7 linked regions of the Homo sapiens genome follow. The protein of the gene in region 1 purifies or fractionates together with the protein of each later gene. This does not show direct contact. Each region holds a gene or a part of one and is shown on either strand. Other genes may lie near its edges. The genes, in order: ZNF71, DDX27, KRR1, PWP2, NVL, RBM28 and POP1.

The links.
Region 2: the proteins of ZNF71 (region 1) and DDX27 purify together in Homo sapiens (affinity purification with mass spectrometry; 2 studies listed by BioGRID and IntAct, with this or other methods). This does not show direct contact.
Region 3: the proteins of ZNF71 (region 1) and KRR1 purify together in Homo sapiens (affinity purification with mass spectrometry; one large-scale study listed by BioGRID and IntAct). This does not show direct contact.
Region 4: the proteins of ZNF71 (region 1) and PWP2 purify together in Homo sapiens (affinity purification with mass spectrometry; 2 studies listed by BioGRID and IntAct, with this or other methods). This does not show direct contact.
Region 5: the proteins of ZNF71 (region 1) and NVL purify together in Homo sapiens (affinity purification with mass spectrometry; 2 studies listed by BioGRID and IntAct, with this or other methods). This does not show direct contact.
Region 6: the proteins of ZNF71 (region 1) and RBM28 purify together in Homo sapiens (affinity purification with mass spectrometry; one large-scale study listed by BioGRID and IntAct). This does not show direct contact.
Region 7: the proteins of ZNF71 (region 1) and POP1 purify together in Homo sapiens (affinity purification with mass spectrometry; one large-scale study listed by BioGRID and IntAct). This does not show direct contact.

What each region holds. Positions count from the first base shown.
Region 1 is NC_000019.10:56,619,302-56,622,143, forward strand, and holds part of ZNF71 (endothelial zinc finger protein induced by tumor necrosis factor alpha), read left to right. Parts: intron 1-1,966; coding exon 1,967-2,842. UniProt on the Homo sapiens protein: May be involved in transcriptional regulation.
Region 2 is NC_000020.11:49,222,416-49,225,915, forward strand, and holds part of DDX27 (probable ATP-dependent RNA helicase DDX27), read left to right. Parts: intron 1-541; coding exon 542-601; intron 602-852; coding exon 853-1,018; intron 1,019-2,529; coding exon 2,530-2,576; intron 2,577-2,697; coding exon 2,698-2,784; intron 2,785-3,500. UniProt on the Homo sapiens protein: Probable ATP-dependent RNA helicase. Component of the nucleolar ribosomal RNA (rRNA) processing machinery that regulates 3' end formation of ribosomal 47S rRNA.
Region 3 is NC_000012.12:75,505,110-75,508,609, reverse strand, and holds part of KRR1 (KRR1 small subunit processome component homolog), read left to right. Parts: intron 1-163; coding exon 164-336; intron 337-1,693; coding exon 1,694-1,828; intron 1,829-2,000; coding exon 2,001-2,126; intron 2,127-2,210; coding exon 2,211-2,294; intron 2,295-3,355; coding exon 3,356-3,412; intron 3,413-3,500. UniProt on the Homo sapiens protein: Part of the small subunit (SSU) processome, first precursor of the small eukaryotic ribosomal subunit.
Region 4 is NC_000021.9:44,127,899-44,131,398, forward strand, and holds the end of PWP2 (periodic tryptophan protein 2 homolog), read left to right. Parts: intron 1-33; coding exon 34-252; intron 253-348; coding exon 349-499; intron 500-653; coding exon 654-728; intron 729-2,698; coding exon 2,699-2,873; 3' UTR 2,874-3,283; downstream 3,284-3,500. UniProt on the Homo sapiens protein: Part of the small subunit (SSU) processome, first precursor of the small eukaryotic ribosomal subunit.
Region 5 is NC_000001.11:224,229,173-224,232,672, reverse strand, and holds part of NVL (nuclear valosin-containing protein-like), read left to right. Parts: exon of another isoform or gene 1-25; intron 26-1,376; coding exon 1,377-1,447; intron 1,448-3,500. UniProt on the Homo sapiens protein: Participates in the assembly of the telomerase holoenzyme and effecting of telomerase activity via its interaction with TERT. Involved in both early and late stages of the pre-rRNA processing pathways.
Region 6 is NC_000007.14:128,312,909-128,316,408, reverse strand, and holds part of RBM28 (RNA-binding protein 28), read left to right. Parts: intron 1-1,388; coding exon 1,389-1,645; intron 1,646-3,134; coding exon 3,135-3,234; intron 3,235-3,500. UniProt on the Homo sapiens protein: Nucleolar component of the spliceosomal ribonucleoprotein complexes.
Region 7 is NC_000008.11:98,127,293-98,130,792, forward strand, and holds part of POP1 (ribonucleases P/MRP protein subunit POP1), read left to right. Parts: intron 1-302; coding exon 303-470; intron 471-1,072; coding exon 1,073-1,248; intron 1,249-2,685; coding exon 2,686-2,934; intron 2,935-3,500. UniProt on the Homo sapiens protein: Component of ribonuclease P, a ribonucleoprotein complex that generates mature tRNA molecules by cleaving their 5'-ends. Also a component of the MRP ribonuclease complex, which cleaves pre-rRNA sequences.

The sequences.
Region 1 (2,842 bases):
ATTAAACACCAACTCCCACCCACTCCTCAGCCCCCGGCATCCTCTGTTCTACCGTCTGTCTCTGGGAATCCGACCTCCAGGTACCGCAGATGAGTGGAATCACATGGCATCCATCCTTTCATGTCTGATTTATTTTACTAAGTCTCTTTGATGGGCTTTGCTTTTTTAAAAAATGTTTTTCATGGGGAAAGTCTGAAATCCCAAGTTTCGTATCGGATGTGTTAGGCTTGGGCTATCCAGTTGAGATGCTGGGCTTTTTTGAACAGTTTGGACATAGCCCAGAAAGCAGGTCTGGGCTGAAGGTGTATGTTTGAGCAGCATCAGCCTGTGGATAACGTTTAGATCCAGACTCACTTTGTGTGGCTTTGAAGGTCCAGTGTGATTCAGGAGAGTGGTCTCAAACTCAGGTGGCCTCAGGAACTACCAGGTGGATCATTTATGTGGAGGAGGGGGACAGCTGCTGCCCCATGCAATGTCTTGTTGCCCATAAGAATGAGGCTCCACGTGGCCATATCTTCATGTTTTTTATGAGCTAGCAGCCACATGGACAGCAACTTTTAAATGCTGGGAATGAGTCCCCTGATGCAGAGTCTAGACTCCACCTAGGCTAGAAATCGAGGTTTAGAAATGAACAGGATACACGTGGAAGGTGATTGAAGCTGTGGGCACAGAGGTATTTAGCCAGGGAGGGTGGATGAGCAGAGAAAGAGGGTCTGAACCCAAGCTCCACGGAATGCCTGCCACCCAAGAACTAGGCAGCGTGTGACGTAGCAACAGAAGCAATTGTGAGACCCCAAGTCATGTGATTATTGTGGGCTCAAGTGAGCGGTCCTGTGTGTATGAACACTTAGTGCTGAGGCTGATGAGAGGGCTGGGGTGCGGGAGGGCTGGGGCCAGCCAGGGCAGGTGCGTGATGAGCTAGCGGGAGCCGGAGCCCCAGCCAGGGGAGAGGATCTTGCAGCCAGCAACCCTGGGGCAGCCATACCAGAGAAGTGGCAAAGGGGCAGGAGAAATGCCCGATTTTTCTCTCATTTCACTTCCAGTTTCCTGCCTTTGGCCAAACACACAGGAAGCCAGTGGGCAAAGTCAGCATCCTGAGCACAGGGCAGGTCAGAGAAGGGTGGAGAATAGAAAGTGGGTCGAAGGAGTAGAGAATAACCAACACATGCCATATAAATGCTAGCTATTTATTATTTCTTTATTCTTTTTCTTCTTTTTTCAATATTTATTTATTTATTTATTTTTTAAGAGACAGGGTCTCACCCTGTCACCCATGCTGGAGTGCAGTGACGTGATCATAGCTCACTGCAACCTCGAATTCCTGGGCTCAAGTGATCCTCCCACCTCAGCCTCTCAAGTAGCTGGGACAATAGGCATGTGCCACCATGCCTGGCTAATTTTTAAAAAAAAATTTAGTAGAGGCGGGGGTGGGGGGTCTCACTATGTTGCCCAGGCTGGTCTCAAGCAATCCTTGCCTCAGCCTCCCAAAGTGTTGGGATTACAGGCATGAGCCACTGTGCCTGGCCATCTTATTATTTCTGATAAAAACTGTTGCTTGAGGAGCACGACTGGTTGTGGATCTGCAGGATGAAGTGAGGAGGCCCTGCAAGTCAGTAGCCGGCTGCAGTCATTCCTACTCAGGTTTGCAGAGCCTGCCCTTTGCTCCCTGCAAGCCCAGCTCACTACTGCAGTTTCTCTCCAGGAGTGCCTGTCATCCCTCTTCTGAAGGGACATTTGCTCTCCCTGTTCACCTCCTGTGTTGACTCTGCTTCATAAACCACATTGGCCTCAGTTCCATGCCTCCCTCCTCCCTCCCTCTCTGATCCAAGGTTCTTCTTTGCTAACTCGCTCTGTGCCTTGGGCCTCATTGGGGTCGGTTTCATTTGCTCCTTCCTGCTGTGGAGCTTCCTCACTCCCAGCATCTTTAACTACATGTATTTGCATCTTCTGTTTTTGTTTTTTTCAGACTGGGAGACTAGACCTGAAATGAAAGAGTTGGATCCAAAGAATGACATTTCGGAAGACAAGCTCTCCGTTGTTGGGGAGGCCACGGGGGGACCCACGAGGAATGGTGCCAGGGGTCCTGGCTCAGAAGGAGTGTGGGAACCAGGCAGCTGGCCAGAGAGGCCGCGGGGAGATGCAGGTGCAGAGTGGGAGCCATTGGGAATTCCCCAGGGGAACAAACTCTTAGGGGGCTCAGTACCCGCATGTCATGAACTGAAGGCATTTGCCAACCAAGGCTGTGTCCTGGTCCCACCACGGCTGGACGACCCCACAGAAAAGGGGGCCTGTCCACCCGTAAGGCGTGGCAAGAACTTCTCCAGCACTTCAGACCTCAGTAAGCCCCCCATGCCCTGCGAGGAGAAGAAAACCTACGACTGCAGCGAGTGTGGCAAGGCCTTTAGCCGAAGCTCGTCCCTGATAAAGCACCAAAGGATCCACACGGGAGAAAAGCCGTTTGAGTGTGACACCTGTGGGAAGCACTTCATCGAGCGCTCGTCCCTCACCATCCACCAGCGGGTGCACACGGGCGAGAAGCCCTATGCCTGCGGGGACTGCGGCAAGGCCTTCAGCCAGCGCATGAACCTCACTGTGCACCAGCGCACGCACACGGGCGAGAAGCCGTATGTGTGCGACGTGTGTGGCAAGGCCTTCCGGAAGACTTCCTCTCTCACCCAGCACGAGCGGATCCACACGGGGGAGAAGCCCTACGCGTGCGGGGACTGCGGCAAGGCCTTCAGCCAGAACATGCACCTCATCGTGCACCAGCGCACGCACACCGGGGAGAAGCCGTACGTGTGCCCCGAGTGCGGGCGAGCCTTCAGCCAGAACATGCACCTGA
Region 2 (3,500 bases), on another chromosome or scaffold:
TCTCCTGCCTCAGCCTCTTGAGTAGCTGGGATTACAGGCATGAGCCACTGTGCTCAGCCTTACCAGCACTGCATTTTCAAGATCGTCTGGAGAGGATTAAAAAAATTTTTTTTTTTGAGACGGAGTTTTGCTCTTGTTGCCCAGGCTGGAGTGCAATGGCGTGATCTCGGCTCACTGCCACCTCCGCCTCCCAGGTTCAAGCAATTCTCTTGCCTCAGCCTCCCGAGTAGCTGGGATTACAGGCATGCACCACCACACCCGGCTAATTTTGTATTTTTTTAGTAGAGACAGGGTTTCTCCATGTTGAGGCTGGTCTCGAACTCCTGACCTCAGGTGATCTACCCACCTCGGCCTCCCAAAGTGCTGGGATTACAGGCGTGAGCCACCGCGCCCGGCCTAAAATTTTTATATATATAATATGTATATGTATTTTCAGAGAAGGCCAAAATTTTTTCTTTTTCAAGTTAATTATGAAGAGTTTGTTCTCTTATTCGATGTTTCAATGAAAATTTCTTTTTCACCTCTTTATTTTTATCTGCAGAGGGCAGCCACTACATTAGATGAGAAGATTGAGAAAGTTCGAAAGAAAAGGAAAACAGAGGTGAGAAGAAAAGTGGCTATTTTTCGTTGTTAGGGCCCACTCTTTACTCTCACCACGACCCCAGCATCTCTCTGGAAGCCCTTATAGAGCGGGGCATGGCTGGGGCAGGCGCACTCTTCTGTGTGTTTGCTGTGAATCTGTACTGAGAATCCCCACAGCCGTTCATTCAGGCCGGAGAGCTTCCTATCGCTCTACTTAGGTTCTGGATTTCTAGAAGTTTCTCATCACCCTCACTTTAATTTTTTTCCCAGGATAAAGAAGCCAAGTCTGGGAAGTTGGAAAAGGAGAAAGAAGCAAAGGAAGGCTCTGAACCAAAGGAGCAGGAAGACCTTCAAGAGAATGATGAGGAAGGCTCAGAAGATGAAGCCTCGGAGACTGACTACTCATCAGCTGATGAGAACATCCTCACCAAAGCAGGTAGACGTTACGGCGGAGGTGTCAGTAATGGGGACAGGAGATCAGAAGGCATCCTCCTTTACTTTGTAGGGTTTCCTCCACTCTTCTGCACAGTTTATCTTTAAGCTGTTCTGCCTACTACATTGAACTCCTTTCTTTCTTTTTTTTTTTTTTTTAAGAGATGTTGGCTGGGTGCAGTGGCTCATGCCTGTAATCCCAGTACTTTGGGAGGCTGAGGTGGGTGTATCGCTTGAAGCCAGGAGTTTGAGACCAGCCTGGGCAACATGGTAAAACCCCATCTCTACTGAAAATACAAAAATAAGCTTGGTGTAGTGGCATGCACCTGTAATCCCAGCCACTCAGGTGGCTGAGGTACGAGAATCACTTGAAACTGGGAGGCAGAGGTTGCAGTGAGCTGAGATTGTCCCACTGAACTTAACCCTGGGCCACAGAATGAGACCCTGTCTCAAAAAACAAAACAAAAGAGATGTGGTCTCACTCCATCCACAGGCTGGAGTGCAGTAGTGCAATCATACCTCACTGGAAGGCTTGAACTCACTGGCTTAAGTGATCCTCCTGCTTTAGCTTCCTAAGTAGCTGGGCCTACAGGTGCATGCCCCTGCGCCTGGCTAATTTTTTTTTTTTGTAGGGACGGGGTCTTGCTTTGTTGCTCAGGCTAGTCTCAAATTTCTAGGCTCGAGCAGTCCTCCCGCCTTGACCTCTAAAAGTGCTGGCATTACAGGCGTGAGCCACTGTGCCCGCTGAATCCTTTCTTTTAGGTTTTCTTTTCTCTTGGGATTTTGTTTGGGTTGTTGTACTTCATAGGTAGTTTACTCTTTTCCCATCTAGCCCCATGCGGCTGCCAGATGCCACTGTGATACAAACTCATTTGGGGTGACATACTCAGATGGGTCCAGCCACATAGTGGGTGCTCAATAAGTATTTCTTTCTTTCTTTTTTTTTTTTTGAGATGGAGTCTTACTCTGTCACTCAGGCTGGAGTGCAAGTGGTACAATTTCAGCTCACTGCAACCTCTGCCTCCCGGGTGCAAGCAACTCTCCTGTCTCAGCCTCCCAAGTAGCTGGGACTACAGGCACACGCCAACACACCTGGCTAATTTTTGTATTTTTAGTAGAGATGGGGTTTCACCATGTTGGACAGGCTGGTCCCGAACTCCTGACCTCAGGTGATCCACCTGCCTCGGCCTCCTAAAGTGCTGGGATTTTAGGCGGGAGCCACTGCTTCCGCCCTCAATAAGTATTTCTTGCAGAAATGTGTGCTAAAGCATCATAATACAGTGTAGTGGTCGAGAGCCTGGTCTCTGGACCAGAGTCACTGGGTTAGCTTTCTCTCTGACCTTAGGCAAGTTACTTCACCATGCTGCCACAAAGTGTCCTCATCTGTGAAACAAGGTTGACGATGGTCACCCCTCAGAGGCTGAAGTGTGGCATTGGCACTTAGGACAGTGTCCAGCAGGATGCAAGTGCTTTGTAAGTCTGAGCCGTGGTCATCAGCTAAGTTTTTCTCCATAGATACACTCAAAGTAAAGGATCGGAAGAAGAAGAAGAAGAAAGGACAGGTGAGCTTGGGGCTGCAAGACAGTATGCAGCTTGTTGGCAAACCGAAAGGAGTTTAAGGTCGTTTGGGTTTCTTGGCTCTTTTTGTTGAATTCTCTTCTCTCTTTTGGTTTTCTGGTGTAGGAAGCAGGAGGATTTTTTGAAGATGCATCTCAGTACGATGAAAACCTCTCGTTCCAGGACATGAACCTTTCCCGCCCTCTTCTGAAGGTAGCAGCTTCTTGTCAAAAATTTTCTTTGTAGAAGCATGGTCTTGCTATGTTGTCCAAGATGGTCTCAAATTCCTGGCATCAAGCAATCCTCTTGCCTCAACCTCCCAGAGTGCTGGGATTTGAGCCACTGTGCCTGGCCAGTAGTGGCTTATTTTGGCAACCATGGGATTATTGCAGCCACCCCTAACTGGACTTTCTGCTTCTCTCTTTGCCTCCCTCAACTCTTGTCCATACAGTTGCCAGAGAACTCCCTTTTTTTTTTTTTTTTTTTTGAGACGGAGTCTCACTCTGTCGCCCAGGCTGGAGTGCAGTGGCACAATCTCGGCTCACTGCAACCTCCACCTCCCGGGTTCACGCCATTCTCCTGCCTCAGCCTCCCCAGCAGCTGGGACTACAGGCACACGCTGCCACGCCCTGCTAATTTTTTGTATTTTTAGTAGAGATGGGGTTTCACCGTGTTAGCCAGGATGGTCTCGATCTCCTGACCTCGTGATCCGCCCGCCTCAGCCTCCCAAAGTGCTGGGACTACAGGCGTGAGCCACCGCGCCCGGCCGAGAACTCTCTTAAGCAATGAGTTCCATCGTGTCCCTCCTCTTCTTCTCTGAGTCCTTCAGTACTTCCCAGTCTCACTCTTCTTAGAAGCCTGAGTCCTTATATTGACCTACAAGGCTCTGCCCCTTCTGGCCCTCTCTGACGACACCTCCTGGCACTCGT
Region 3 (3,500 bases), on another chromosome or scaffold:
TGAATAATATAAAAAGCAGGGGAAAAGGAAATGCAAGGAGTATTGGAAGGTTTGTGAATATGTGCATAGGATGTTCATAAAGTGTCCAAAAGACAGTTAAAATGTGATGTGTATGTCCAAAAGACAGTTAAAATGTGATGTGTAAATTTTTTCCTTTCTGTAGATGAATCAGAACTCCTTACGGTTCCTGATGGTTGGAAGGAACCAGCTTTTTCCAAAGAGGACAATCCCAGAGGACTTTTGGAGGAGAGCAGTTTCGCAACTTTGTTCCCAAAATACAGGGAAGCTTACTTGAAAGAGTGTTGGCCATTGGTGCAGAAAGCCTTAAATGAACATGTATGTGTATCTTATATCAATACATTTATTTGAGACTTTGCTCTTGCTTATGCCTTTAAATGTATGTATGCTAATGCTTTTTTTTTTTTTTTAATGGTGCTAACATAGCTGGTTACTTTGGTTCCTTTGGTATTCTAAACTATTTAAGTAAGTTTTCTTCTTACCTAATGTTCATTTGTTTTAATTTTATGAGTAATAAATTACTTTGAAAAATTTACATACCTTTAATATTTTAGGAGCTTCACAACTGTCTGAAATTCACCTGTGAAGTCCCAATTTCAGTATGCCTGCTCCAGGCCATGATAGTTGTCATGTATCTGTCCCAGTCTGAGCTGAGTCATGTTTCTAATTGATTACCTTTCATCTTAAATGGAAGATGTGGATGTGTCCAACTTTTCCTTGTTTATTGCTGATGCTATGCCCCTAGATAACTGCATTTTTTTTTTCAAACTGGGGATTGAAACCCATTAGTGTATTGAGAAGTCAATTTAATGGCTATAATGAGCCTTTAGAAAATGACATATCACATGGTAAAAGTATCTTTTTTTGATATTGGCTTTGTTTGTGTGTGTGTGTATATGTATTAGGTTGTGATATAAAATGTGTTTCTAACTGTGGGACTGCTCTGGAGTTGGTTGTGCCATTGTGGGTGAAGGTGGCTCAGCAAGCTGCAGGTTGTGTTTTGTAGCTGCATCTGGGATTGAGCTCATTTTTTTTTTGTAAACTCATAGAGACTCAACCATATGTTGAATTGTTCAGCACTTAACTATGTTGAAATATTCTTGAGATTATGCTCACAAGTGAGAAAATAGCATTTTAATTCGCTTTGTTGAAATCTGTTTTTTCCTGTTGAAAGTTAATGCTTAAGTTTTCTAATCATTGCTTTTTTCTGAAACTATGATAATTTGCTTTTACTTTGTATTTAGTCCCCTAATTAGCTCGAAAAAAGTTTGAAAGGGAAAGTCAATTCTTACCCAATGGAGCAGATGGTAGACTGGAGCTGGGTCCAGAATAGGGAAGCTGTACAGCTTTACATTTTTACCTTAGTCAGATTTTAAGTATGACCTCATTTGTTTGATTTATAATTTTTAAATTAGAGGCAATCTATATTCCAGTGGGTACAAAGTATTCTAAAACCAAGGGTAAATGGTTTCAATTGCTCCAGTTTCTTATAGTCTGTAAAGTGTGAAAGTAATTGAGTATTCATTATTTATACTTAACTACCTAGCTTCTTCAGGGAAGTAATTGATAGGAATTGAGAGGTGACAGAAATTAATAGGTTGGTTAGGAGAGGCTTTATAATTATCTAAAAAAACTCATTTTTAGACAACTGCTTGTTTGCTCTTTCCTTCTGTAGCATGTTAATGCAACCCTGGACCTGATCGAAGGCAGCATGACTGTTTGTACTACAAAGAAGACTTTTGATCCATATATCATCATTAGGGCCAGAGATCTGATAAAACTGTTAGCAAGGAGTGTTTCATTTGAACAGGTAAATCTAGAATTACAGAGACTTTGCTTTGTTTGCATCAGTGTTAACCTATAACATCCCACCATCAAGTTTTCATATTTGTGCTTAGGTAACAATAGCGTGGGCCTGGAAAATGAATGTAATTGTAAAAAATGTTGATAATGTCTTCTTTTTTTTTTTTTTTTTGCAAAAGGCAGTACGAATTCTTCAGGATGATGTTGCATGTGACATCATTAAAATAGGTTCTTTAGTAAGGAATAAAGAGAGATTTGTAAAACGAAGACAACGGCTTATTGGTCCCAAAGGATCTACATTGAAGGTATTTTTTAATTAGTGGAAAACTTGAGTCTCTTCCTTAATACTTTTTCAGAGTAATGAATTTTAACTTGATCTCTTGATACAGGCATTGGAACTCTTAACTAATTGTTACATTATGGTTCAGGGAAACACAGTTTCAGCCATTGGACCTTTTAGTGGCTTAAAAGAGGTGAGAACTATGTATTATCTTCGATTCATTTTCAGCAGAGAACAAATAATTTGGTTATAATATAGTTTATTGGATAATGCTTTATAATTTTATTTCTTTAGAATGTGCTTTGATTTCCCATTAGTAAATACTTTTTATGTCATATAATTCAAGGGAATCATCATATCTGGACCCTAACATGTTTTGGCCAACCTTGGCAACTATGGAGACATCCATTTCTGAATTAGATGGTCTGCACACTATTACTCCTCCCACTATAAAATTTAAATGAGCATTAAGATCTTCAGTCTGTAGCATGTATGAACATGGTATAGTTACATATGTCCAAATGACGGGAAAATTGAGCAAAAATCCAGTTATTTGCAGTAGTGTATACAGCCAGTAGAGGTCACACTCTGAAAACTTTTCTTCAAGATGTAGTTTCTTTTGTTTGAATTTTAGTATAATGTTTAATAACTTTTCATGAACATTTTCTTTAACTTCTCAAATTACATGTGGTGAGGAAATCTGTGGAGCAAATGCTGTTTCTGTTAACTCCTTTTGGTACTATTACTGTCTGGATCTGGCTTGTGAGGTTGTGCTTCCTTTCCAGGGCCTTTAATAGTAATCCTATTGGCCTTTTTTGTCATAAATTGTCTGCTCTTTTCTCATGGAGCAATAATTAAGTATATTGAATACAATTCTTACAAGAGAGTCTTGAGGTATATGGTTTTATCTTATATTACAAATGAGAAAGCTGGAACAGGAAAGTGATTTTCCTGTATGCAGTGGCAGTCCTTGTATTCCAGCCCTCTTCCTCCTAAATCACATTGCTTTAGAGTGTTGTATTAGTTCTCTGTGCTACATTTTAGCAGTAATTGAGAAACTGTATTGTATTCAAGGGAGATTGACTGCCTTTATGAAAGATGGAGAAGCCACTCAGAGCAGTTGAAGGAACTACTTAATTATTTAATTACATTATTTAATTTGGTACCCATTACCTGATTTTTGCAGTATTAATCCTCTTCTCCATAGCTCATTAAAATCCTTGTGACTAATTCATTTTTCTTTGCAAATTTCAGGTTAGAAAAGTAGTCCTTGATACTATGAAGAATATTCATCCAATTTATAACATTAAAGTGAGTGGTAATTATATATAACTGTACCAGTGATTATCATACTTCTTTTAGCTACAGAAACCTTTCTTGAAATTAAATGTTTTATGAA
Region 4 (3,500 bases), on another chromosome or scaffold:
AAATTTTTAGGAAAGCACTGCTTAATTTCCCAGGGCGCTGCTGGGCGGCCACCACCACGGAGGGACTCCTCATCTACTCCCTGGACACCCGCGTGCTCTTTGACCCGTTTGAGCTGGACACCAGCGTCACCCCCGGGAGGGTGCGCGAGGCACTGCGCCAGCAGGACTTCACCAGGGCCATCCTCATGGCCCTCCGGCTCAACGAGAGCAAACTGGTGCAGGAGGCCCTGGAGGCGGTGCCCAGGGGCGAGAGTGAGTTGGGGCTTCGGTGTCGGGCGCCGGGGTCATCCTCTCTTCCCCTGGTTTGAGTTGGTGGCAGAATAAGCATGATTTTTTCTCCTTTTGCAGTTGAAGTGGTCACCTCCTCCCTTCCTGAACTGTATGTGGAGAAAGTGCTGGAGTTTTTAGCTTCCTCCTTTGAAGTGTCTCGCCACCTGGAATTCTACCTCCTCTGGACTCACAAACTGCTCATGTTGCACGGACAGAAGCTGAAGTCCAGGTAGAGGGTCTCCCCCGCAGTTCATCGGTGGCTCAGGTCACTGGACCAGCTTGTCCTGCTGGATAAAAGGGAACTTTGACATGCCAATGCAGCATGAAGTGAGCCCACTGTACCACGGGGTGAGCCCCGCACGCTTAGGGAGTCTCCCTTTCAGAGCCGGGACGCTGCTGCCTGTCATTCAGTTCCTCCAGAAGAGCATCCAGCGGCACCTGGACGACCTGTCGAAACTGTACGTGTGGGTGCAGGGCCTGGGGGTGGGTGGGGTGCACGGTCCCCTGCTGGTCCACACTGTGGAGTGCTCCTTGTGTCATCTGATTTGAGGACAAAAGGAACCAGTGCTGGAGGCTTGTCTTCTCACCTGCGGGTGAACTGCACCTGCCCGGCCACCCCGTGGTTGAGCAGCTTGGGAAATGGCCTGGCGCTGAATGGAAAGCAGTGAGCACTGTGGCAGGCAGACAGGCTGCAGGTGGCGCGCTCCAGGTGCGGCCGGAATCCTCCAGGCTCTTGGAGGGATTGCCGCATTCGTAGGACCAGGCAGCCTTTCCTGAATTTGCAGGTCACTTGCACAGGCAGTGGGGGTGGTCACAGGACTGTGAGGCCAGGCAGCCTGGAGTCCTGGAGGTGTGGCTGCCCTGAGCTGTGGCTCCCCTAGAAAAGGGTGCTGTTGCTGCTGCTGCGAGGATTCATCCGCGGGCCTAGGACAGGGCCTGGCCCTCCGCAGTGCTCACTCTGCAGGGGTGCCCGCCTCTTCTCCTGTCATTTCTTTGTGGTTTGTGCCTTTTTTGTCCCTACCAATTCACCTTCCCTAAAGGTCCTGCAGAGCCGGGACTAGGCAGGCCTCAGAGTAGCCATGTGAGGGATATCACCCTCTGTTGCCAATCAGTTGCCGGGTTTCCCAGCTGCGTTTCTGAACGGTCTGTTCTCTGTCCTGTTTGCGAGTTGCTCTGTCCAGGGTTCAGGGGCAGAGCCTGAGTTTGGGCCTTGTGGGTTCATGTGGTCCTCCTGTCTGTCCTTGAAGTGTCACTCAGTCTTTGGAAAGAGTCCTGGAGTCCAGGTCGAGCCTGTCCTCCCCTCGTGTTCTGGGTGCCCTACAGAAGGCTGGGATGTGCCCTGATCCACAGTTTTGGTGCCAGGCCTTCCCTCGGCTGAGATGTCCTGGACTTTTCACAGAGCTCTGTAGGGGAGGAGGGTTGTCTAGCTCCCTTATTTATGTATTTATTTATTTTTTAATTCATTATTATTATTATTATTATTTGAGATGAAGTCTCGCTCTGTTGCTTAGGCTGGAGTGCAGTGGCGTGATCTCGGCACATTGCAACCTCTGCCTCCCAGGTTCAAGCAATTCTCCTGCCTCAGCCTCCCAAGTAGCTGTGGTTACAGGCACACGCCACCACCCCCAGCTAATTTTTGTATTTTTAGTAGAGACAGGGTTTCACCTTGTTGGCCAGGCTGGTCTGAAACTCCTGACCTCAGGTGATCTGCCTGCCTCTGCCTCTCAAACAAAGTGCTGGGATTATAGGTATGAGCCACCATACCCGGCCCAGCTCCTTTAGATTTATTCCCTCTTATGGGATGTTTTTAGAGTTCACGTAAGTGCATTGTTCCTTGGACCTCCTGTCTAGGCGTTCACTGCCAATCTGTAGGGTTGCCATTGGCTGTCAGGAAGAGTCCTGCACAGAGGGTCCTGTGCCCTGCAGATGCGATGGGGCGCTTCCTTCCTTTCTCATCCATTTATCTTTCAGTTCTCCTTTCCTATGTAAAGTGATGGTGGCATCACTTTTCTCCTTTATTCCATTAACTCAGAAAATTAACTGATTCAGAGCGTGCCTTCCTCCCCTCTCGCTCCACAACACCACATAGCTCTGCAGCGGTCTCTTCCTAAGTGTTTGGTGGAACTTGCTGGTGAAGCCATCTAGATTGGGCCCAGCGGAAGGGCTGAGCTGCCAGGATGACCCCAAAGGGATGGGATGTTACAGTTGGGTCCTTGGGTCCTTGAAGGCCTTTGCTGCCCCAGGGCTGGATGGGGCAGAACCAGATTGTTGGGGCAGGGAAAAGAGGAAAAAAATGGCTGCTGGGGTGGAGGAACCGGCATGTCCAGCCCCTGCTGCTTTTCTCAGGGGTCACAGAGGAGGTGGTTGGGTGCAGGACAGGCCAGGGCCTGGGCGTTGCTGGCATTGACCATCCCTGTGTGATTGACAGCTGTAGCTGGAACCACTATAACATGCAGTACGCACTAGCAGTTTCCAAGCAGCGGGGCACAAAACGCTCCCTAGACCCGCTGGGAAGTGAGGAGGAGGCAGAAGCATCTGAAGATGACAGCCTGCATCTGCTTGGAGGAGGAGGCAGAGACTCAGAAGAAGAGATGCTGGCCTAGAGCCAGCCGGTTGCAGCGTTGGATTGTGCCGGCTAAGACCTGCCAGGGAGATGGGACCCTTGTGCCACCTGGGCCAGCAAAGAGGAGGGGTCCAGAGAACAGCTGAAATACTGTCACTAGTGGTAGTGACTTGCTTTTCCTGTGCACACATGTAGCCCATCAGGACAGCGAGCCGACGGGTCACGCCAGGGGCCGGCACGCACTGGCACCTGGCCCCAGGAGCGGGGCCGTGTGAACGGTGATGAATGTTGAAAATGCGTCTCAGAGAGGTATTCACATGAACTTTGTATGAGACTTATTTATATCTTTAACATAAAGGTTTGATAAAGAACTTAGGGATTAAAAAAAAGATGGAGTTTTCTAACGTGAGGATGAAGTCTACACTTCAGATTAAAAAGGGTTATGTTGTATCCTGCTGTCTTGTGGGGGCTCAAGACCTGCCTGCCTTACCACCAGGGCCTCCGTCCTGGGGAAGCAGGCTGACAGAGCAGGGTGCTCCTGCTGTCTAGCGGGGGCTCTGCCTTGTGACCTGTGCATATCCTTGGGGTCAGGGGCACAGAGCCTCTCCCTGACCTCTTGGGGATGCTTTGGAGTCTGGGGCTGGGATTGGCCTGTCTTGGTGAGCTC
Region 5 (3,500 bases), on another chromosome or scaffold:
GAAAAAAATTGTCTGCTGGGTGTGGTGACTCACATCTGTAATCCCAGCACTTTGGGAAGCTGCGGCAGGAGGATTGCTTGAGCCCAGGAGTTTGAGAGCAGCCTGCGCAACAAACCAAGATGCCATCTCTATAAAAAATTTAAAAATTAGACTGGCATGGTGGTGCATGCCTATAGTCCTAACTACTTGGGAGGGTGAGGCCCAGGAGTTCGAGGCTGCAATGAGCTATGATTGCACCACTGCACTCCAGCCTGAGTGACAGAGCAAAACCCTGTCTCTATTTTTATTTTGTTATTTTTATTTTTATTTATTTATTTTTTTTGAGACAGAGTCTCGCTCTCACTCAGGCTGGAGTGCAGTGGCGCGATCTTGGCTCACTGCAAGCTCCGCCTCTCGGGTTCATGCCATTCTCCTGCCTCAGCCTCCCAAGTAGCTAGGATTACAGGCGCCGGCCACCACACCTGACTAATTTTTTTTTTTGTATTTTTAGTAGAGACGGGGTTTCACCATGTTAGCCAGGATGGTCTCGATCTCCTGACTTCGTGATCCGCCTGCCTCGGCCTCCCAAAGTGCTGGGATTACAGGTGTGAGCCACTGCGCCCGGCCTCCCTGTCTGTATTTTTATTTATTTATTTATTTATTTTCTAAACTTGAGTCTTGCTCTGTCGCCCAGGCTGGAGTGCAGTGCCGCGATCTCGGCTCACTGCAACCTCCACCTCCTGGTTCAAGCAATTCTCCTGCCTCAGCTTCCCGAGTAGCTGGGACTACAGGCGTGTGCCACCACACCCACTTAATTTTTTTTGTATTTTTAGTAGAGACGGGATTTCACCATATTGGTCAGGCTGGTCTCGAACTCCTGATCTCATGATCCGCCCACCTCGGCCTCCCAAAGTGCTGGGATTACAAGCCTGAGCCACCGCGCCCGACCTAAAGCTCCCTTCTAAACCAGTGCTGAGATATATTATATATAAAATATTCTATGATATTATGGCTCCATAAGATCTCATTGTGTGTTGCATACTCTTAAATATTAATACTATGGAATCCTACTTTCTATTCCAGTTACATTTATTTGAATTATCTGAATAATTCTGGCTCTTGTTCATAGGCATCACCATTAAGTTAAACAATGCAAAGAGGCCTACAAAAAGTTACCAACTTATGAGTGGCAGATCTCTTTGGGTGGTTTTGGATTAAAATCTGATGAGCAGAATATATCTGGCTAGAATACTGTTCTGAAAAAGAACAGAGCCCATCTCATCACTGATCTCTTTAGTGGACCCCTTGAAAGTTTTGAAGTCTTTCAAAGGAAGTTAAGTTCTAAGTCAGTTACCATACGATACTGAGATGTGTATATTTGTGCATTTACTCCATAGGTGAACTCAAGGTTAGTCATAAGCATTTTGAAGAAGCTTTCAAGAAAGTAAGATCATCTATATCAAAAAAGGTAAGCAATGCCATTAAATGCATAGAGAAAGGAAACTAGAATTTTAGACCAGTAGATATGACCTCATGAATTAAACTCTTTTTTTTTTTTTTTGAGACGGAGTCTTGCTCTGTCGTCCATGCTGGAGTGCAGTGGTGCGATCTCTGCTCACTGCAAGCTCTGCCTCCCGGGTTCACACCATTCTCCTGCCTCAGCCTCCCAAGTAGCTGGGACTACAGGTGCCCGCCACCATCCCCGGCTAATTTTTTGCATTTTTAGTAGAGACGGGGTTTCACCATGTTAGCCAGGATGGTCTCGATCTCCTGACCTCGTGATCCGCCCGTCTCTGCCTCCCAAAGTGCTGGGATTACAGGCGTGAGCCACCGCGCCCGGCTGAATTAAACTCTTTTACAGATTGTTTTGTATACTACTTCTACTTCCTAAAAAGAAATTACATGGTTCATTTTGATCTGAAAACAAGCAAAATAATTGCCTTTGTGAGAATGTTCTTGAGAGATTTTAATTTTATATGTTTCTTAGGGACTAGAACACAGTTTTCCTAACTAGATTCTCTAACAACTTTATTCAGAAAGAGAATGACCTCTTCTGCCTCCACAATCTCAGATTTTTTTTTTATTTTTTTGAGACAGAGTCTCGCTCTGTCACCCAGTCTGGAGTGTAGTGGCATGATCTTGGCTCACTGCAACCTCTGCCTCCTGGGTTCAAGCGATTCTTCTGTCTCAGCCTCCTGAGTAGCTGGGACTATAGGTGCGCACCACCATGCCTGGCTAATTTTTTGTATTTTTAGTAGAGACAGGGTTTCACCATATTGGTGAGGCTGGTCTCAAACTCTTGACCTCGTGATCCACCCGCCTTGGCCTCCCAAAGTGCTGGGATTACAGGCGTGAGCCACTGCGCCCAGCCCACAATCTCAGAATTTTAATCATCTGATTCAAGTATTATTTGACCTACTCTACGCTTTTTGATAAATGGCTTTGTATTTCTTGGAGCTAGACTGTACCCAAACTAAGCCATAGGGACTTACCCATACATTTCAGGGAAATAAAAACATCTTCACCATAGGTGGGAGAAGGGTTAAAAAAAAATCACTCTGGAGCTGGGCACAGGGGCTTATGCCTGTTATCTCAGCTACTCAGGAGGCAGAGGTGGGAGAATGGCTTGAGCCCAGGAGTTCAAGATCAGCCTGGGCAACATGGTGAGACCCTGTCTCTACAAAAAAATTAAAACTTAGCCAGGCATGGTGTCATGCACCTGTAGTCCCAGCTACTTAGGAGACCGAGGCAGAAGGATTACTTGAGCCCAGGAGGTTGAGGCTACACTGAGCCATGATCACACCATTGTACTCCAGCCTCGGTTACAGAACGAAACCTTGTCTCAAAAACAAACAAATAAACACAGAAGAAAAAACACACTTCAAGTATTTCTTTGGGATGAATACACAGGAGTGGAATTGCCACCCAACATTTAAAATGTTAATTTGCCAGACGCGGTGGCTCACTTCTGTAATCCCAGCACTTTGGGAGGCTGAGGCGGGCAGATCACGAAGTCAGGAGTTCAAGACCAGCCTGGCCAATATAGTGAAATCTCATCTCTACTAAAAATACAAAAATTAGCTGGGCGCGCACCTGTAGTCCCAGCTACTGCGCACCTGTAGTCCCAGCTACTCAGGAGGCTGAAGCAGAAGAATCGCTTGAACCTGGGAGGCAGAGGTTGCAGTGAGCCAAGATTGCACCACTGCACTCCAGCCTGGGCGACAGATTGAGACTCCGTCTCAAAAAAAAAAATTTTTTTTTAATTTGACCACAGTGAGATTCTACTACACACCTACCACAATGACTAAAATTTAAAATATTGGCAACACTAAATGGTGGCAAGGATATGAAACAGCTGGAACTCTTTTTATTTATTTATTTATTTATTTATTTTTTTGAGACAGAGTTTCACTCTTGTTGCCCAGGCTGGAATGCAATGGCACAATCGCAGCTCACCACAACCTCTGCCTCCTGAGTTCAAGCTATTCTCCTGCTTCAGCCTCCCGAGTAGCTGGGATTAC
Region 6 (3,500 bases), on another chromosome or scaffold:
AAATTACTTTATTTGTTGCCTGGATTTATATTCATACTGTTCTTTCTGTGTAAAAATGCCTCTACTCACTTTGCATATGCAGATCAAATGATCTCTTTCAAGTTGCATGCCTCCACCTCTCTCAAAAGATATAAGGCCCTCTTTACTTGATTTTCATGAACTTCCTTAAGCTGTGTAGTTTTTTTTACTTTGGTTTATTTGTGAATGCATCTCTTATCTCCACCTGGCTGTGAGTCCTGAAGGGTAGACACTATTTTTTTGTATCCTGGAAACAGACTGGCACACACTAGGCATATAATAAATGTTCATTGTATCGTTGTACCTATCTAGATTTCTAAGGTGAAAGGGAAGAACAACACACACTTATCATTACATTAATTTCACTTGAATCTTCTGTTTCTTCCACTTCAGTGCAAATACTTCTATAACTTCCTTGATGCCTTCCTTCCCACAGCATCTTTTTCTTGTCGTCTTTACTTCATTTATTCCATTCCTGATGTTCTTCCTTTCTTGAAAACGATCAGTTTCTGACCTATGTCATTTTTCTTCTCTCTGAAGAGATTATTTCGCATTTCTTGCAGACAGGTCTACTGGCAACAAATTCTCTCCATTTTCTTTTGTCTGAGTAAGTCTTTTCCTTCACTTTTGAAGGATAAGTTTATCGGATACAGGATTGTAGGTTGGTGATTTTTTTTTCTTTTAAAAATTTAAATATTAAATATCTCACTTCACTCCCTTCTTGCTTACATGGTTTCTGAAGAGAAGTCTTGGAAATCTCTCTCAATCTACTCTGGTTTGGGAGGGTGCCTATTAAAAACAAAAGAGAGAGAGATTTGATGTAATCTCATCCTTGTTCCTCTATAGGTAAAATTTTTCCCCTGTCTGGCTTCTTTCAAGATTTTATCTTTGATTTTCTGCAGTTTGTCTATGATATGACTGGTTGTAAATTGTTTAGTATTTATCTTATTTGGTCTTCTCTGAGTTCCTAGATCTGTGGTTTAGTGACTGTCATTAGTTTTGAAAAATTCTCAGCCCTTATTACTTCATTATCTTTTCTGTTGCTTGCTTTCTTCTTGTATTCTCCTTCTACATAGGTTACACCTTTGATAATTGTCCCACCTACTGACTTTTGAATTTTGGGCATGCACTCTCCCTTATTTCTGTGTTATGGGAAGGGGAATGGTTATTTTGTGCCCCCCACCCAGTAACCATCTGTTACTGTGGCAGGGCTTGTGATCTACATGTATTCACTTTCCTCTAGTCTCCAATTGTGTGGGGGAAGAATTCCTCTTCTTTCATCTAGCTCACATAAAGCTCATCTTCTGCTGAGTATTTGCAGCAAACAAAGCTCATCCAGAAACCAGATGGCATTTTCTTGTTTTATGCAGCAAAAAATGAGATCCAAGCCTGCAACTGGTGAGCCTCAGAAGGGGCAACCAGAGCCTGCAAAAGACCAGCAACAGAAGGCAGCTCAACACCACACAGAGGAACAAAGCAAGGTGCCCCCAGAGCAGAAGAGAAAGGCGGGCTCTACCTCATGGACCGGGTTCCAGACCAAGGCTGAAGTGGAGCAGGTGGAGCTGCCTGATGGAAAGAAGAGAAGAAAGGTCCTGGCGCTCCCCTCACACCGAGGCCCCAAAATCAGGTGAGATGCAGGAGGGCAGAAGCACAGAACAGTGGGTGGGTTCTAAGCGGGTTTGTTTTTGCTGAGTTATTTTCTCTTTGTGGCATTTGTTTGGTTGAAAAGGATGTTTGGTGCTATGTATTCCCACACATGGGGTTAACACGCGAGTCTTCAACACCATCAGAGATGTCACTCTTAGATCAATGGCAGAGGGGCCTCCTAGGGCAGGCTTTTGTGCCCCTTTTCTCCTCTTTTGAAGAGCTTCCTCTTGTCCAGATGGCCATCTCTGCCAGCTGAGACCACATACTTGAGGTTCAGTTGTAGTTTCTGTTTGGGACAGCAGATTAGTGCTCTACAAAAGTAAATCTTTACAAAATATTTGTTAAATAAATGAAGGTTTTTGAGATATCCATGGGGTTTTATTTATTTATTTATTTTATTTTTAGAGACAGTGTATTATTCAGTTCTTCCACTGCTATAAAGAAATACCTGAGACTGGGTAATTTATAAAGAAAAGAGGCTTGGCTGGGCGCGGTGGCTCACGCCTGTAATCCCAGCACTTTGGGAGGCCGAGGCGGGTGGATCACGAGGTCAGGAGATCGAGACCATCCTGGTTAACATGCTGAAACCCCGTCTCTACTAAAAATACAAAAAATTAGCTGGGTGCGGTGGCGGGCGCCTGTAGTCCCAGCTACTGGGGAGGCTGAGGCAGGAGAATGGCGTGAACCCGGGAGGCGGAGCTTGCAGTGAGCCGAGATCACGCCACTGCACTCTGGCCTGGGCGAAAGAGCGAGACTCCGTCTCAAAAAAAAAAAAGAAAAGAAAAGAGGCTTAATTGGCTCATGGTTCCACAGGCTGTACAGGAAGCATGACAGCAGCTGCTCATCTTCTAGGGAGGCCTCAGGAAACTTAATCATAGTGGAAGGTGAAGTGGGAGCTGGCACATCACATGGCCAGGAGCAGGGGGGAGTGTTTTAAACAACCAGATCTTGTGGTAACTCATTCACCGTCACGAGAACAGCACTGAGGGGATGGCGCTAAACCATTCATGAAGGAGTCATCCCCATGATCCAGTCACCTCCCACCAGGCCCAGCCTTCAACACTGGGGATTACAATTCAACGTGAGATTTGAGCAAGGACACAGATCCAAACCATGTCACAGGGTCTTGCTCTGTTGCCCAGGCTAGAGTGCAGTGGCATGATCATAGCGCACTGTAACCTCAACTCCTGGACTCAATCCACCTTCCTCAGCCTCCTGAGTAGCTGGGACTTTTTAATTTCGTTGTAGTAGAGACGGGGGATTGCTATGTTGCATAGGCTGGTCTCAAACTCCTGGCATCAAGCAGTCCTAAGTATACAAATGTTGAGCTTTCAGAGGGTCTGTTGCAGTATCCCTTTTTAGAATGACTTCACTTATCATGGGCTTGGGAAGGGCCAGTGTACAAAGAGAACCTAGGGGTGTCAAATTAGAAGAAGGACTCAAGGTGACACTCAGCCATGTTATTTCAGGTTGCGGGACAAAGGCAAAGTGAAGCCCGTCCATCCCAAAAAGCCAAAGCCACAGATAAACCAGTGGAAGCAGGAGAAGCAGCAATTATCGTCCGAGCAGGTGAGTTCTGCAGGACATACAGCTTTGGTATGGCATGGTTCTGCCAGGTCGTAGCCATGTTTGTACCTTGGTTAGTTGAGCAAAAAAGAAAAAAAGAAAGACTTCTGTGTAGGACGGTAGCTTTTTAGAGAATGTTGAGCTATACAATCTTAAAAGTGGAGAGAAAAAAGTAAAATGAACCTCCACGTATCTGTTCCTGTGTTTCAGCAGTCTCCTTGTTTTACATATTCCCCATAACATGCTTTCCCCACTAGAGTATATTAAAG
Region 7 (3,500 bases), on another chromosome or scaffold:
TTGAAATTCATGTTGCACCGTTTATAGGAGAAAATTTCACCTGTATCTGTTATATCCAAGGTCCTTTATATGTCATCCTGACATGATTACCTTGTGTGCTACCTACTAGCTTTGTGACCTCGAGCAAGTTAATTCACCTTCCTACGTAAGATTCCTCTTTAAAAATAAGTAGTAATAGCCACCTTACAGGGTGACTATAGGATTAAAAACATGGTCAATGTTGCCACCCAACAAATATTAGTTCTCCACTATAATGTTTATCTCTGATAAAGGTGACATGTTTCTTTTTGAAAATATACTAGAGCCTCATCCTGGAACTTCACGACAGCGGCAAACCAGAGTCAACCCCCATTCTCTGCCTGACCCTGAAGTGAATGAGCAGTCTTCCTCCAAAGGGATGTTTAGAAAAAAGGGAGGATGGAAAGCAGGTCCCGAGGGCACGTCTCAGGAGATCCCCAAGTATATAACTGGTGGGTACTCATAAAGAGGTGCAGTTTGCTTGTATTTTGAACTCTCGTGTCTAGTGCAGCAACAAACTGCCCTCCTTGTGGTCCTGGCTCTGCCTCCCCTACCTCTCCTCTCCTCCTCCTACTTTAGACCCTTCTCGCCTCTAGCCTGGACTTTGGCCAGAGCTTCCTTGGGCTTGATGGCTCTCCCTTCTTCAGTTTCTCTCCCTGTCTCTTACTCTTCTTCTTACAAGTCTTTGTGAACTGTTCCTCTTTGTCTTAGCCCCCGTGCCCCTCTTGTTTTAAATATGCCATCCACACTCAGCACAGCATTCTCCAAGGATGGAAAATTGAGTACACACAAATGGCAACCAAACCTTTATTTAAAGGGCCTGTCTCCAGGCCCTTTCCATCCTCTTCTGTTCTTCACCCTATGATCCCCATCCACACTACCACAATTAAACCCTATATTCCTTGTACCTTGTACCTATACCTTAGATATGCTTTCTGGTCTCTCTTTACGCCTTCTTGGTGGAGGAATTCAGTTAAGTTTCCCCAGCAGCCTGTTTATTCTCCAATGTTAATTCAAGATTGGTGTTTAATGACTTTGTCATCTCCTTCAACAGCTTCTACTTTTGCTCAAGCACGAGCTGCTGAAATCAGTGCTATGTTAAAAGCTGTGACCCAGAAGTCTTCGAATTCACTGGTTTTTCAGACTCTGCCACGGCACATGCGACGAAGAGCCATGAGCCACAACGTCAAACGCCTTCCCAGACGGTTACAGGAGATTGCCCAGAAAGAGGTAGGAGTTCCACTTAGTGTAAATGTTTAGATTAGTAGCTCCTAGAAGAAATTGAGAAGTATTGACCTAATAGAATTTATTAAAAATGAAAACCAAGGCTGGGCATGGTGGCTCACGCCTGTAATCTCAGCACTTTGAGAGGCTGAGGTGGTCAGATTGCTTGAGCCCAGGAGTTCAAGACCAGCCTGGGCAATATGGCCTAACCTTGTCTCTACAAAAAAATCCGCAAATTAGCTGGGCGTGATGGTACATGTGTGCCTGTAGTCCCAGCTACTTGGAAACTGAGATGGGAGGGTACCCTGAGCCAGGGGAGGTTGAGGCTGCAATGAGCTGTGATCATGCTACTGTACTCCAGCCTGGGTGACAGTGAGACCTTGTCTAAAAAGAAAAAAAAAACTCAGAAAACATCACCCTTATGGTTTTTGTTTTTGTTTTGCATATATTTGATTTAATCATTATCCAAACTTCTTCCCTTCAAACGAAATTCACAGGCAATTGGCTATTATGGGTGCTTTGAAATATAGGATTTGATACTCCTCTCTTGTAAGGGTGTTGAATAGTTGATGTTCCCTTCCCAGATGTTAAAAAAAAACTCTGACCCTCTTACCGAGTGGTTTTGGATCTGTGTTTCTAGGGTGTGCCCAGCTTGGGGTAGGAAGGTTAAAAAAAAGCAATGTCAATGCTTAGCATTTGCTTTCTGACTTTTTCGAAGTTGAAAACTTGAACTGGGTTTTAATTTTTGTACAAGTCTAATTGTGTTTTGGCTTCACCAGAATTCTAGACTTGAACATTCTAAGATTAAGCCCATGTCTTTACTAATTGGTTTAAAACCTATTTATTGAGCAGCCTTCTATGTACCATTGCTATGCTGGTGGTGGGGTTTGAGTTCAAGAGGGAAAACTAACAAGGAATTTTATACTTTCTAGATTTAATATAAAATCTGTTTCCCAGTGATAGCATTCAGCATGTGTATGTCTGTAGCTTAACTGAGATGAAATGTATGGGTTTTCCTCACTTGTATTATTTTTGGTCTTAAGTTTTTGGTTTTAGTTACAATTCTACAGGTTAAAATGACAACAAGAAGCTAGCATTTGATTTCTTCTTTCTTGCCCTCTAATACTAATAGCCATATTAAGCTTGTGTTACTGTGTTGAACATTTTATAAGTATTCTGATCTTCATATTCCATGAAACTTGCCTAGTTAGTGAGTGATGGAACTGTGCCTCCTTCCTAGGTCTCCTAGCTCTAAAACATTCACTCTTTCCATTGTCTTCCTTCTCTACTTACATTGAAGAAACTAAGTTAACAATTTAAGCAAACTAATGGGATCTATAAAATATTCCACTTAATCTAAAGTTATTTGTTTGCATTCCTGACCGTTAACTCTGTTTTGAGATTCTTACAAACTGGGATATGTCCCTCTACTTGAAACTATAGGCGGAGAAAGCCGTACATCAGAAAAAAGAACATTCAAAAAATAAATGCCATAAAGCTCGAAGATGTCACATGAACCGGACGCTAGAATTTAACCGTAGACAAAAGAAGAACATTTGGTTAGAAACTCACATCTGGCACGCCAAGCGGTTTCATATGGTCAAGAAGTGGGGCTACTGCCTTGGGGAGAGGCCAACAGTCAAGAGCCACAGAGCCTGCTATCGAGCCATGACGAACCGGTGCCTCCTGCAGGTGAGCTTTTCCAGTGGGCTTTTTTTGTTATTTTTGTTTGATCCTTTTCCATAGAGGCCTTTAGAATAGTTTATGATGTGCCAAGCCCCGTTTATGTGATTATTCATTTTAAAAATAATTCCTGAGCATGAAGCCCGGGTCCTTTGCCAGATGCTGGAGATCAGGCAGCCTAAAGTTAGGGGGGTGACTGACATTAATCAAACGATTTACCAGATATGTGGTTGTAAGGGAAAAGCATACAGTATGATGAGCATTTCTAACCTAACTGGAAGGCGTCCCCCAGAAGTGCTGTTTGAGCTGAGCTCTAAGGGATAAGATGGGAGGAGAGGGGGAAGGCAGAAGGAAGCCAGGTGAGAGTGAAGAACTGGAATCAATTCTGTGTGACAGAGAAGAAGAGAAGGAGAACAAGGCAACATCAGGGCAAGGTTAGCCTAGAGAAAAGAGTAGGAACCAGGTCGTGCAGGTCTTGTTGATCATGTCAAGTTTTATTCACTATAGATTAATCTAACAGTCGTTCATCAATAACAGATATTTGAGAATCAACTGTGTACCCTGAACAGGGTTCA